Linked DNA regions of Homo sapiens. The protein of the gene in region 1 interacts with the protein of each later gene in a biochemical or structural test. Each region holds a gene or a part of one and is shown in the gene's direction. Other genes may lie near its edges.

Evidence for each region. Proteins that work in one complex are often made in the same cells at the same time.
Region 2: the proteins of MYPN (region 1) and SNTG2 interact in a test that uses a peptide from one of them, tested with the Homo sapiens proteins (one large-scale study listed by IntAct).
Region 3: the proteins of MYPN (region 1) and GRID2IP interact in a test that uses a peptide from one of them, tested with the Homo sapiens proteins (one large-scale study listed by IntAct).
Region 4: the proteins of MYPN (region 1) and MPP2 interact in a test that uses a peptide from one of them, tested with the Homo sapiens proteins (one large-scale study listed by IntAct).

Annotation. Positions count from the first base shown.
Region 1 is NC_000010.11:68,203,488-68,206,987, forward strand, and holds part of MYPN (myopalladin), read left to right. Parts: intron 1-557; exon of another isoform or gene 558-772; intron 773-3,282; coding exon 3,283-3,416; intron 3,417-3,500. UniProt on the Homo sapiens protein: Component of the sarcomere that tethers together nebulin (skeletal muscle) and nebulette (cardiac muscle) to alpha-actinin, at the Z lines.
Region 2 is NC_000002.12:1,261,849-1,265,348, forward strand, and holds part of SNTG2 (gamma-2-syntrophin), read left to right. Parts: intron 1-46; exon of another isoform or gene 47-173; intron 174-487; exon of another isoform or gene 488-570; intron 571-3,500. UniProt on the Homo sapiens protein: Adapter protein that binds to and probably organizes the subcellular localization of a variety of proteins. May link various receptors to the actin cytoskeleton and the dystrophin glycoprotein complex.
Region 3 is NC_000007.14:6,509,962-6,513,461, reverse strand, and holds part of GRID2IP (delphilin), read left to right. Parts: intron 1-2,422; coding exon 2,423-2,554; intron 2,555-2,755; coding exon 2,756-2,853; intron 2,854-3,061; coding exon 3,062-3,179; intron 3,180-3,309; exon of another isoform or gene 3,310-3,446; intron 3,447-3,500.
Region 4 is NC_000017.11:43,897,537-43,901,036, reverse strand, and holds part of MPP2 (MAGUK p55 subfamily member 2), read left to right. Parts: intron 1-412; exon of another isoform or gene 413-484; coding exon of another isoform or gene 485-566; intron 567-2,656; coding exon 2,657-2,775; intron 2,776-3,500. UniProt on the Homo sapiens protein: Postsynaptic MAGUK scaffold protein that links CADM1 cell adhesion molecules to core components of the postsynaptic density. In CA1 pyramidal neurons, required for synaptic KCNN2-containing channel function and long-term potentiation expression.

The DNA of each region.
Region 1 (3,500 bases):
CTGAGGAGGGAGGATTGCTTGAACTCAGGATTTGAAGGCTGCAGTGAGCCATGATCATGCCATTGTACTCCAGCCTGGGGACAAGCAAAACCCAGTCTCAAAAGAAAAAAAGAATAGGATATTTTGATACTTTAAACTCATAGTGATTAGCTTCTGAAAACCACACACCTAGGAACATCTGAATGGTCCTAAAACGCGCACGCACACACACACACACACACACATACACACACAGAGAGAGAGAGAGAGAGAGAGAGAGATACAGTTGCTCCTCAACTTACGATGGACTTACCTGGATGTAACCCCATCATAAATTGAGGAGCATGTGGAATGCAAGCATCCTAAGTCAGGAACTGCCTGTATATCACTGTGATTATAACTGTGTTGTAAGTGTTGTAAGTATTTATGGTTTTCATGTCCCTGCCTTCTCTCACCTATATACCTCTGCTCAGGACATTCCTTCTTTGGGAACTCTCTTCGCCTTCTTCTCTACCTCCACGCTGCAGCCCACTTCCCTAATGTCTGTTATCCCTTAATACTCACCTCAAACATCATCTTTCTAAGGAAGAGCAGTGCCCCTGCTTCCTCCCCAGCTTGGTCCAGGACTGAGTTGATGTTCTTCTACCAGCAACTGTTGCACGTAGTCACAATTGTTAGTACTAATGGTTTCATTCTCTCTCCCACGACTAGACTGTGAGCATCTTGAAGGAAGAGACCACGTCTTCTTTGTTTTCGTATGTCCTGACTCTTCACAACACCCAATGCCTTTCACCTAGTAGCATATTATGTAAGATGAAGGAATTACAAACAAATGCATGAATTTCCACGGCTATTGCCTCACCTCACTAAACTACAGCAATAGCACCCTAATGTGTCTCTCTGCGGCCAGGCTCAAGCCCTATTCAATACCCCTCCTCACCACTGTGAGAATGACCTTTTAAGAATGCAAACTGACCGGGCGCAGTGGCTTACGCCTGTAATCCCAGCACTTTGGGAGGCCAAGGCAGGTGGATCACCTTTGGTCAGGAGTTGGAGACCAGCCTGGCCAACATGGCAAAACCCTGTCTCTACTATACAAAAATTAGCCAGGCATGGTGGCATGTGCCTGTAATCCCAGCTACTTGGGAGGCTGAGGCAGGAGAATCACTTGAACCTGGGAGGCAGAGGTTGCACTGAGCTGAGATCACACCACTGCACTCCAGCCTGGGCCACAGAGTGAGACTCTGAGACTCTGTCTCAAAAAAAAAAAAAAAAAAAAGAGAATACAAACTGATTATATCAACTCCTGCTTAAAATATATCATTAGTTTCCCATAATCTGAGAGGAAGGGTCCCGTCCCTTTACCATAGTGCACGTGACCCTCTCCCCTGCCTTCTTCCTAGTCCCCCCACTTGCCAGTACCCCGTGTGCACTCCAACCCCAGCTGTAAGGAATATGCCATGATCCCTCCCACACCACCACGCCTTTGTGCAGGCTGTTCCACCACCTGGAACAGCCACATCCCACCATCCCTGTGAGTTTCCACTCGACCTTTGAGACTGAGCTGGAGCACATCTTCTGGGAAGTTTTCCCACCCTTGAATTGGCTACATTATATTTCAGTGCTTGAGAAATAGATTTTTAAAGTAATCTCGTCTTAGTCGTCTCAGGTCTTTATACAGTGTTACATTTTTCTGTGAGCCTAACCTCACATATGCTGGTGCTTCTGAACATCCAGTATCTTCATGCCTCCTTCTTGATGCCTGTGGCTTCCCAGAATAACCTTTTCCCCTCTGTCTTCCCCAGGCATCTTTCCCACGACATTACTCTAGCATTTGTTGCATTCTATTTATCTTTATTTCTACTTATTTATCTTTTATTTATTTATTTTCCATTAAACTTAGGGATCCTTCTAGAGAAGGAATTTCTTTGGCCAGGTGTGGTGGCTCACACCCGTAATCCCAGCACTTTGGGAGGCTGAGGAGGGTGGATCACCTGAGATCAGGAGTTCGAGACCAGCCTAGCTAACACAGTGAAACCCTATTTCTACCAAAAAAAAAAAAAAAGAAAAATTAGGCAGGCATGGTGGCAGGCATCTGTAATCCCAGCTACTTGGAAAGCTGAGGCACAAGAGTCTCTTGAACCTGGGAGGGGGAGGGTGCAGTGAGCCGAGATCACACCACTGCATTCCAGCCTGGGCAACAGAGCAAGACTCTGTCTCAAAAAAAAGAGAAGGAATTTTTGTCCTGTTCATCTTTACACCCTCAGCACCCAAGGCAGTAGCACCTAGCATTTTCCCCAACATAGTATTCGTAAGTGTTTACTAAAGAAATATATCAAAGAATGAATGGATTAATTAATTGACTAATCAGAAGGTGAAGGTAGCCAATGTGTTAGTGTAGTGAAATTGTGGTGGATATTTTATTACTTTATTCTTGTTATACTTGTTATTGATTGATTTATTCTTTATTCTTATTACTTTATAAATTCTTAGACATAATAACTTTCAATGAAAGGTAAACACTTATTCATCCTTTGAGCTCAGGAAGCCGTTGCTGTTGCCCCTACTGTGCAAATGAGCTGTGGCAGCCCCAGAGGAGAGCTTGGAAGTATGAGTGATAAGAGGGCCAGGCCAACAAGGGGTGTAGGGAACATGTGGCCCTATGGTTTTTGATCCATGGCTGCATATTGCAATTACTGGGGAGTTTCCAAAAATCCTAATGCTTGGATCCCAGCCTTTGATTCTGATATAATTACCTGGGATATGGCCTGGGATTCCAATATGCAGTCAAGGTGAAAAACTATGGATGTGGAGAAAAACAGAAGGAAACAGCAGGCTGATTTCCTCCTAAACCTCGTGAAGCTGGAAGCTGCACGAGCCCAGCTGGTTACATTAGGAAATGCCGTCTATGCTGCCAGTTCATCCACCCCCTGGCTCTATTTTGTCTTGCTTTCCCTGTTCATCCCAGAGCATCCTAACAAAGTTATCGATGAAATGTCCAACCTTGTTTGGAAAAGAGATCTTTCTGAACTTTGGTTGTGAAAATTGGGGGTTCTGCTGGTGGGGAGCGCAACTTCAGTGGACTTGCAGCAGTGGGGAGGGCAACAGCAGGTCTCAGCCCCAGCTGCCCCCTCCTCCTAGCATGATTAAGCTCACTGCTGCTCTTCTTTGACGTCTTCCACCTTCAAATTTGTCTTGATGTCTGCCTTAAGCTGAGTTCCCCCTTCTTCCTGGAACCCTAAATTTGACAAAGGCATTTCTGCCCCCCGATAAAATATAGGTATATTCTCTCTTTTTCTCCAGTATGCACCAGGACACAACAGGGTATGCCTGCCTTCTCATTCAGCCAGCCAAGAAATCAGACGCTGGATGGTACACGTTGTCAGCCAAGAATGAAGCCGGCATCGTGTCGTGCACTGCCAGGCTGGATATATACGGTAAGTGTAATGCTGTTAGTTGAACATCTGTATGCAACTGACAGCTTAAAAATATTTTTTTAAAGATAAATGGGTCAGGCAAGG
Region 2 (3,500 bases), on another chromosome or scaffold:
GACTTTCCAGAAGCCAAGCAGAGACAGGGATGGGGCCCAGACTCACGTGGCTGCAAAGCTCATCCCGAATCCCGCTCTATTCCACGTGCTAGAAGCAGTGGTGTTCCGGGAGCCTGTCGCGAGTGGCCGTTAAGAGTTCTAGAACGTGTTCTCCACGGATCTTCGGGGTAGTCCTGTTTGGATAATATCAACACTGAGAGGAAGAATTCCTAAATGATTTTCCTAAAGCCATGTCAGGACAAAACTGCACCAGAGTTAAAGGCGAAGAAGGCAAGAAGACCTTATTCAAGTCTATTATGATAGGAGAGAGAGAGAGATTCAGAGATTCAACTCCACTGAAACAAAGGATGAGAGGGTTTCTACAAGTTGGGATGGGAAGGAGATTAGGGCCATCATTGTCTGTTAATTGGCCTCCTGCAAAGAAACAGAGAGCTTCCCCCATCTTCATGACAGGAGGTGGTTGCACAGCTTAGAGCCAAGCACCCACCAAGGCTGGGCTCCATCCTTCCACAGGGACAGGAGATGACGCCATCTTGCCAGTGATCACATTTTGAAGGGACAGCTCCCAGCTCCTTGAGAAAGACAGTCCTGGGTTGTACAGCCAGCAAGAGACTTCTAGAAAGATTCAGGTATCAAATGGCAGAGAAAGAACATACAATAATACATTTTCTAAAGCAAATGCTCTAAAGATAGGGAGTTCCAGGTCCCAGAGGTGGGAAGAAGCCGGGTCAAGTCTCAGTCCAGACGAGGAAACCCAAAGGCTCAGTCCAGACGAGGAAACCCAAAGGCTCAGTCCAGACGTAGTAACCGGAAGGCTCAGTCCAGACGAGGCAACCGGAAGGCTCCGTCCAGACGAGGCAACCGGAAGGCTCCGTCCAGACGAGGCAACCGGAAGGCTCCGTGCAGACGAGGCAACCCGAAGGCTCCGTGCAGACGAGGTAACCGGAAGGCTCGGTCCAGACGACGAAACCCGAAGGCTCGGTCCAGACGAGGAAACCCGATGGCCTAGCCAGCCGCTGACTGACTGTTGACGGCAAGCCGCTGACCTTGAACTTCAGTGCTCAGGGTTTCCAGTCGTATCAACACACTGCGATCCACAAGGTCTGAGTGATTGTTTTTAAAGGAGCTACAGGAACTATCTGGGGAAATGAGCTATATATGAATAATTAATTTTCCTTTTGTAGAACTTACAACACATTCTTTGTGAGGCTAAACAGTGGAAAAACAATCCCTTGCTTGATCAAGCAGTCTCACTCCTCAGAATTGAATCTAAAGAAGAGTCCATTACAACACTGAGTTCAGAGGAATCAAAGAGCTATATGTATGAGAATGTTTAAGGATATTCCTTAAATTAATGATATTTGAAGAATAATCAAAAGACCATTGAGAAATATTTTAAAATCTTACAACATATTTTAAGTAATTCTACTATAAATTTATACAGTTATATGTACAAATTCACATTGCATGAAAGAGAATATTAATTATTGTCCTATTATTAAGGTTATATTAATAATTATTGACATATTTTTAAAAATCAGATGACAAAACATAGTAATAAGTTTATCTTTTAAATTCCCTTTATTGTTGCTATAATTGTTTCATAATAAATATAAATAGAAAAAATATGTAATTTTAGAATACAACCCTTTTTGTTTTTTTCAGGAAAGGGAACATAATAAGATGATGTCTTGCAGTCCTAGGTGGGGGGTGGGCTTTCTTCAGTCGTGGGGGTGGCTGGAAATGCTGTTCTGGATATTGCCAGAGCTGACCCTGCCAGGAAGCCAGGTAGCTGCAAAGCAGACATCAAATCGACATGTACGGCCTGGCTCAGCATTGCCTTAGGACGTGTGTCTTTATGAAAGCACGTAGTGAACTCATGTGAATCCGGGATGTGAGCCCTGCATGCTGGCCACTCTGTCATGTGAAGTTATGACAACATTTTTATCACGATTCCATTTCACAGCTCAAAAGTGGAGGCTCTGAGAGAGTGAATTGCTCAAGATCAAACAGCTAATACTGGGCAAAGAAAGGCCTCAAATTTTATCTGACTCCAAAACCTGGTGTTCTTCTATTATAATACACAGCTGCCCAAATATAGCAAGTGATAGGAAAGAAACACAATTGACCTTTGAACAATATGGGCTTGAACTGCGTGGGCTCATTTGTATGCCAATTGTTTTCTATAAGTATGTTGGAAAATTTTTTGAAAACAATTTAACAATTGTAAAAACCTCTTAAGACAAACTGTGTAGCTTAAAAATATCAAAACATTAAGAAAAAGTTAGAGATGTCGTGAATTCATACAATATATGTAGATACTAGTCTATTTCATCATTTACTCCTGTAAAATATAAATCAATCAATTTGGCACCATCTGCAGTGGAGAGGAATATAGACAAAGGTAAAGATGCAGCGTTCAATCATTCCTGCCCATGGTTAACTGGAGCACATAGTGTGACATGGGTTTCTGAGTAAAATGTCTTAATCATCCCTGTGGAAGCAATTTCTCTCTCCAGTAAATTGCAGAGCATGGTAACGAGTGATCTCTCAGAGTTCTTGTGTACCTTCCCTCCTTCGTGTTGAGTCCAGTAACGTAAACCTTGAATAACACCCCGGGACCCACACGAAGTGCCACAAGGGATGTTGCAAGTGCCCCAAGAAGCGGGAATATCACAGCATTGCCAAAAAGCTGAATTGTTTGCTGTGCACCACAGATTGAGGTCTGCAGCGTGGTTGCCACCATTTCAGACCATTCATCTCATAAACAGATGATGTAAACTTATGGTGTCAATAAATACAGTGCAGTGCTCTAAGTATATCTTCTCTTCCCTGTGATTTTCTCAATAACATTCTCTATTCTCTAGCTTACTTTCTTAATTCATTTATTTATTTAGAGATAGGATCTTGCTGTGTCATCCAGGCTGGTCTTAAATTCCTGGGCTCCAGTGATGCCCCTGCCTCAGCCTCCCAATTAGTTGTGATTACAGGTGTAAGCCACTGTGCCTGAATTCACTTATTCTATTCTAAGAATGTAGTATATTATACGTATAACATACAGAATATGTGTTAATTGACTGTTCATGTTATTAGTAAAGCTTCTGATCAACAATAGACTACTAGTAGTTAAGTTTTAGGGGAGTCAAAAGTTATGCATGAATCTTCAACTGCGTGAGAGTTGGCGCCCCTAACCCCTGGGTTGTTCAAGGCCCAACTATAATGAGCCATTCAATGGGGGATGTGCGTTCCCACATAAATATCTTCCAAAAGTTTTTCTTTATCAGTTTTGACATTTAAGTTCAGTGGATAAAGAGATACTTTCTGCACCATAAGGTCAATGATGAACATGTTGTTCTTGGTTTGTGACGTGTAACCCTATAGGTTCCAGGTATCCCAGCTGAAGGAGACGATCCAGAGGGCCCCAGAATTAAAGTGCAGTTTCTGTACTCAAGGCTCATTTAGGGTTAGCAACGTATGCACACTACACACATTCACGTACA
Region 3 (3,500 bases), on another chromosome or scaffold:
CATCACTTGAGCTCAGGAGCTCAAGATTAGCCTGGGCAACATAGCAAGAGCCTGTCTCTACCAAAAAAAAAAAAAGTTTTAATTTAGCCAGGTGTGATGCACACCTGTAGTCCCGGCTACTTAGGAGGCTGAGGTGGGAAGATGGCTTGAGTGCAGGAGATCAAGGCTGCAGTGAGCTATGATCAAGCTACTGCCTCCAGAAAAAAAAAAAGGAAAGAAAAAAAGAAAAAAGAAAGAAACTCACGTGGTTGCCAGACATGCCAACACCACCACCAGGATCATGAGCACACGACCACATCCCACCTGGCTGGTGGGCTCCCAGTGTACTCTTTCTTGCACACACACAGGCCTGCAGTGCCATGTGTGGCTGCCACCTGTCTGTTCAGCGTGCCCTCCGAATGCCCACAAACCCCTGCACTCAGCATGCAGGTCATGTGGATGGAAGGTGTGCCGAAGCCTGTGTTCTACCCTGTTCTAGGCATCCTGCACCTGCTATGAAAGCCGCTGCAGGTGCAGTGGTTCACTCTTGTAATCCCAGCACTTTGGTAGGCTGAGGTGGGTGGATCACTTGAGGTCAGGAGTTCCAAGTCCAGCTTGGGCAACACAACAAGACCCCCATATATTCAAAATATTTAAAAATCAGCCAGGGGTGGCCGTGCGCGGTGACTCACGTCTGTAATCCCAGCACTTTGTGGAGCTGAGGCAGGCCAATCACGTGAGGTCAGGAGTTCGAGACAAGCCTGGCCAACATGGGGAAACCTCATCTGTACTAAAAATACAAAAATAAGCCAGGTGTGGTGGTACGCAGTTGTAATTCCAACTACTCGGGAGGCTGAGGCAGGAGAATTGCTTGAACCTGGGAGACGGAGGTTGCAGTGAGCTGAGATCGCACCACTACACTCCAACCTGGGCAACACGGTGAGACTCCATCTCAAAGAAAAAAAAAATAAAAAATTAGCCAGGCGTGGTGGTATGCACCTGTAGTCCCAGCTACTTGGGAGGATGAGGTGGGAGGAGCACTTGAGCTCAGGAGTTGGAGACCAGCCTGGGCAACATAGCAAAAAAATTTGAAATTAGCTGGGTGTGGTGGCACACACCTGTAATCCCAGCTGCAGGGGAGGCTCAGGCAGGAGGATCTGTTGAGCCTGGGATTCAAGGCTGCACTGAGCCTTGATTGCACTCCAGCCTGGGGGACAGAGTGAGACCTGTCACAAAAAAAAAAAAAAAAAAGAAGAAAAGAAAAAAAGGCAGGTGTGGTGGCTCACATCTGTAATCCCAGCACTTTCAGAGGCTGAGGCAGGTGGATCACCTGAGGTTAGGAGTTGAAGACCAGCCTGTCCAATATGGTGAAACCCCATCTCTGCTTAAAAAAAAAAAATACAAAAATTTAGCCAGGCATGGTGGTGCATGCCTGTGGTCCCAGCTACTTGGGAAGCTGAGGCTCGAGAATCATTTGAACCTGGGAGGTGGAGGTTGCAGTGAGCTGAGATTGTGCCACTGCACTCCAACCTGGATGAGAAAGCCAGACTCTGAATAAATAAAGAGAGAAAGAGAGAAAGAGACAGAGAGAGAGAAAAGAGAGAAAGAGAGAAAGTGAGAGAAGGAAGAGAAGGAAGGAAAGGAAAGGAAGGAAAGGGAAGGGGCCGCTGCAGAGTTGCTGGTCCTTGTGTGCCCATGAGCTGCAGTCCCAGGGACCCACAATTTGCTAGGGTTTTAGCGAGAAGCTCAGGATCCATGCTGGACCACACATGCCTTACATATCTGCGTAGGCTCAAAAAACTTCTATTTTGGCCGGGAGCAGTGGCTCACACCTGTAATCCCAGCACTTTGGGAGGCCGAGGCAGGCGGATCACCTGAGGTCAGGAACTTGAGACCAGCCTAGCCCACATGTTGAAACCATATCTCTACTAAAAATACAAAAATTAGCCAGGCATGGTGACGGACACCTGTAATCCCAGCTACTTGGGAGGCTGAGGCAGGAGAATCGCTTGAACCTGGGAGGTGGAGGTTGCAGTGAGCTGAGATTGCACCACTGCACTCCCACCTGGGCAACAAGAGCAAAACTCAGTCTCAAAAAAAAAACACTTCTATTTTGCCCATAATCCTCTCTGGGCAGCAGTGACTTGGCCTGGGGCAAGCACAGGGCGTTGAGACTCTGGAAGCTGTTGTCATGAGATCTCTGCTAGGCCCCTGAGTTCAGGCTAGCTGCATTCTGGTGCTGCATTCTGGTGCTGCTCCTGGCACCTGGTTTCTTGCCCTGGGGCTTCCCCTCAAGAGCTGTTCTGGAGGCAAGCAGGGCAGGCCCCGTAGCTTGGGGTCTGCATATTGGTGCAGATGACATCTGCCCTCCCCTCCCTGTTTTGGAGGTCCCTTGTCTGGCTGAGAGGGCAAGAGGGCCCCATGTTCCCTGCATGTCCCACAGCAGAGCCGGAGCCTGAGCTGGACCTGGAGTCCGAGCCCACGCCTGAGCCCCAGCCGCGGAGCTCCCTGCGGGCTTCCTCCATGTGCCGCCGCAGCCTCCGGTCCCAGGGCCTGGAGGCCGGCCTCAGCTGCGGTAAGGCTGGTGTCAGGGGGAGGGTATGAATGGAGCTCAGTTTTCCCACCTGCAAAATGGGCTTGGTGAGGTGGGGAATCCCAGGGAATGGGGCTAAGCAGGGCTCAGGATTGGCCCTCCTGGGTCTGCGGGGCATGTTGGTTCTGGGCCGGGGCCTGAGCCGTAGAGCTCAGATACGGTAATGACATTATTCCCCGGTAGGTCCCAGCGAGTGCCCTGAGATGCCTCTTCCCCTGATCCCAGGCGAGCGCCAGGCAGGCGACGGCACGTCCCTCCCTGAGACCCCCAACCCCAAGATGGTGAGACCTTCTCTGCCCTCCACGTGGGGTCAGTAGGGGGCAGGGAATGGACGGTCCATAGGACTGGGCCCAGGAGACCCAGGCCAAGGCGTCCCTGTGCTGCTTCAGGCTGGGGCATATCCCTGCCTCCCGGCCCACCCAGGCCTGGACCACATTAGGGCTACGAGGGGAAGCAGAATGGGCTGGACTCTCCCCCGTCTCCCTCCAGATGTCAGCCGTCTATGCAGAGCTTGAGTCTCGACTGAACAGCAGCTTCAAAGGGAAGATGGGGACCGTGTCCAAATCCCGGGCTTCCCCTCCAGGCCCCAGCCCAGCAGTCACCACAGGTAGGGCTCCAGCCTCTGTCATCTACTGTCTGGGTGTTTCCCTCCACCCCAGGCTCAGCCCTGGAGCTGCTTCTCTGCTCCATCAGGGTCAGGGTTGTCCCAGTCCCTCCCATGGCCCTGTGACCCTCACCTCAGCTGTGGATCAAGAAAGTAGCCTGGGTACCGTGGGTCGTGCCTGTAATCCCAGCACTTTGGGAGGCCGAGGCAGGAGGATCAATGGAGCCCAGGAGTTTGAGACCAGCCTGGCAACATAGTGAGGCCCCATCTCTAACAAAAAAAATACAAAATTAGCTGGGCATGGTTGCATATGCCTGTAGTCCC
Region 4 (3,500 bases), on another chromosome or scaffold:
AGGGAGGAGGTGGCATGGGGTGTATTAGAGGAGGGGCTTCTAGAAAAGAGGGTACAGGGACAAGATGGGCCAAGACTTTTCTCCCTCGGGTCTCCTGAAGCTGGCTGTGAGGGGAGGGTCTCGGAGTACCGCGCCAGTCTTGAAGGGGCAGCATGCCTACCCCCTCCTCAAAACTTCCTGTTAGCCGCCTCCTCCCCATCCCCACCGACACTGACATGCTGGGGATCGGGCAATCTGTGGGACTAGGGCTCCCTCCCACCACTCTTCTCCCACCCGGGTTACCGCCTGCTCTGCACCGCGCAGCGCCAGTCAGGGCTTTAGCCAATCAGCAAGGCGGTCACGGCGGCTGAGCCTTCCCATTGGCTGGTTCCTCAGAGGGCGCTCCTCGACTCCCGCCTTCCCCAGCCCGGCCAGGCTTTGGCTGGGGAGGCGGTAGACGGCGGCGTGTAGGACGCTCCGGGAGTCCCCGGGTCTGGGGGCCGCCATGGCAGGCAGCCCAGGCAGCGGGGTCTCCTTGGAGGGTATATCCCTGGAGTCTTCTGAGGAAGCGGAGCTCCAGAGGGAAGGTAGGGAAGGGCGGGCCAGATGGGGGCGGGGCAGCTGGCCCCTTAGCCTACCTTCCTCCAGCAGAGTCGGGGCATCTGGGGAGGGTGGCCTGGGAGAGGTCATCTGAGGGCACCTTCAGGAGAGCTGTCCTGGGCAGAGGGCACCAACTCCCTTGGCTCAGTCCTCCCCTAGATAACGGAGGGAATCTGGCATACCCTGGCAGGAAGGGAAGGGTCCCTGCCCTGGCCTCTTTCAGAGCCCACTGAGGGCCTCGCAGGTCTCTGACCAATGCCAAGCCCCGGCCTGGGCAAGAGGGGTCTGAAGGGCAAGCTTGCACTTTTTTTTCTGGAGAAGGCAGGGAGCAGGAGGAGGAAGGAGATGGGAGTCCAGGAGTCCCTGAACCATCTCTGCCAGCTCCAGTTCCAGTGCCCCCTCCTCCCCACTCCTGTTCCTTCCTGGAGGAGGGGGGCACTGACAAGAGCATTGAGAGGCGCCAGGGGTGCATCCTCCGCCGTCCTCCGTGGCTTGGGTACTGTTATGCAGATGTAGGCATGGGCGGCATGGTGGCAGAGTAATGATACCCTTCGCCCATCTCTGCCCCCAGCTGGGCACATTCTGCTTCTCGCTTCCTTTCCCCGGAACTTGCCACAGCCTGGAACTCCCACCTCTGTCAGTGAGTGAAGGCAGCCCTCACCTCAGGTCTCGGGGGCATTGTTGCGGCCCAGCTGCAGGTGTTATCGTGTCCTCCATTATGTCCCATTTCGGGCTGAGAGTTTGCTTATCCCTGTGATGACTTGGTGTGACCTCAGCCTTTGGGTCACACCAAGGCCTCCAGTGCCTGTTTCCCTAGCTCCTGCCAGCGTTCCAGGCCTCAGCTTTGACTTCCTATCATCCATGTTAATTTCTCAGTGATTATAGATCATTGTCACTCAGAGCTGAAGGCCTGTAAACATCATCTAGCCCAATCCATCCATTTTACAGGCAGGAAAGACTGAGGCCAGTGAGGGACAGTGACTTGTACAATGTCACACTGAATTAGTGGTGCTTAGACTGGAGGCTGCAGGCCCTGGCTCCTGTGTGGCTGCCTGCTTGACTCTGGGCCTGTACTCACGGACTTGCTCCGAGTACTGTCTGTCTCATCCTTGAGCCTGCCAGGTACAGGTGGCTGAGCCCTGGGCTTCAGCCCATCTAGAGGTTGAGTGAGGAGCTTGTGGTTTTCTTTTCTTTTTCTTTTTTTTTTTTTTGAGACGGAGTCTTGCTCTGTCGCCCAGGATGGAGGGCAATGGCAGGATCTCAGCTTACTGCAACCTCCGCCTCCTGGGTTCAAGCGATTTTCCTGCCTCAGCCTCCCGAGTAGCTGGGATTACAGGCGCCTGCCACTACGCCCAGCTAATTTTTTGTATTTTTAGTAGAGACAGGGTTTCCCTGTGTTGGCCAGGCTGGTCTTGAACTCTTGACCTCAGGCAATCCACCCGCTTCGGCCTCCCAAAGTGCTGGGATTACAGGCGTGAGCCACCGCGCCCGGCCAGAGACAGTCTTGCTCTGCCACCCAGGCTGGAGTGCAGTGGCGTGATCTCAGCTCACTGCAATCTCTGCCTCACAGGTTCAAGCAGTTCTCCTGCCTCAGCCTCCTGAGTAGCTAGAATTACAGACCTACACCACTATGCCTGGCTAATTTTGGTATTTTTAGTAGAGATGGGGTTTTGCCTTGTTGCCCAGGCTGGTCTTGAACTCCTGGCCTCAAGTGATCCACCCAACAGCTTGTGGTTTTCTGGTGCAGGGCAGGATCTGCAACCTGACACCTGCTTCCCTTTCTCCCTTCTCTCCACCTCAGAGTCTCTTCCAGCTGCCTGGAGCCTCCCACCTGCTCAGGCTGGCATTACCTAGGGTGGAGAGAACAGGCCAAGGAAATTGTCCCCTTCCTCCAGGATCCCTGTCCCAGGCATTCAAGGGCCTGGGGTGCCTGTGCTGGGCAGGGAGGGGAATGTTGCCGGGGAGGGGCTGCCTTCTGTGGGACATGGGGGTGGGGAAGTGGCAAGTATTGTGGTGTGTTTTGGTCTTCTGTACCCAGCTGGTACCTGTGTATCTCACTGCCCGTACCTTCCCCCAGCCATGCAGCAAGTCCTGGACAACTTGGGATCCCTCCCCAGTGCCACGGGGGCTGCAGAGCTGGACCTGATCTTCCTTCGAGGCATTATGGAAAGTCCCATAGTAAGATCCCTGGCCAAGGTACAGTGCTCCAGGGAGGTGGGCACAAGGGCACTGTGCTTGGGGAGGCACAGTAGGGGATGGGGTATTAGCTACAGAGGGCTTTGGGAATGGGACATGTGGCACAAGAGGCCCCCCTGAAGGGGATTGTAGAAGAAAATCATGCCCAGGTGATGACCTGAGTGGCTGCAGGTAGAGGGGGCTGCCCCCACACCTGTCTGGTGAGTGCGTGGGTGGATGTTTGTTGACTGCCAGCTTGTGGAGTGTGTGATTGGTGCGGGCTAGCATGCACATGTTGGAGAATCTCTAGAATTCATCTTGCCTGTCCTTCTGCCTTTGGGCGTTTTGTGTGTATGTCTTTCTAAGGTCACCTGCCATGTATCAGGTTGGGGAGAGATTGACTAAAAGAGAAAATTATAGGACAATTTGGTAATGACAGTGATAGAGGTGGATACACTATGCATTTTGGGAGCATAAAGGACAGGTGTCTAACCCAGCCTGGGGTGGGTGAGGAGGGCTTCCTGGAGGAAGGACCACTTGAGCTGAGTGGAAGAATGAGGAAGAGGGGGAGGGCATTCTGGGCCACAGAAGAGCTTGAGCAGAAGCACAGAGGTAAGAAAGAGTCAGGAGTGTGCAGGGGATTGGAAGGGCTGGTGTGAGGCTGAGCCTCAAGTGTAAGACAATGCGAGCTGTGCAAAGGTTGGCAGGTCTGGAGGGCACTGGGGGCTGTATGTGGGTGCTTGGGC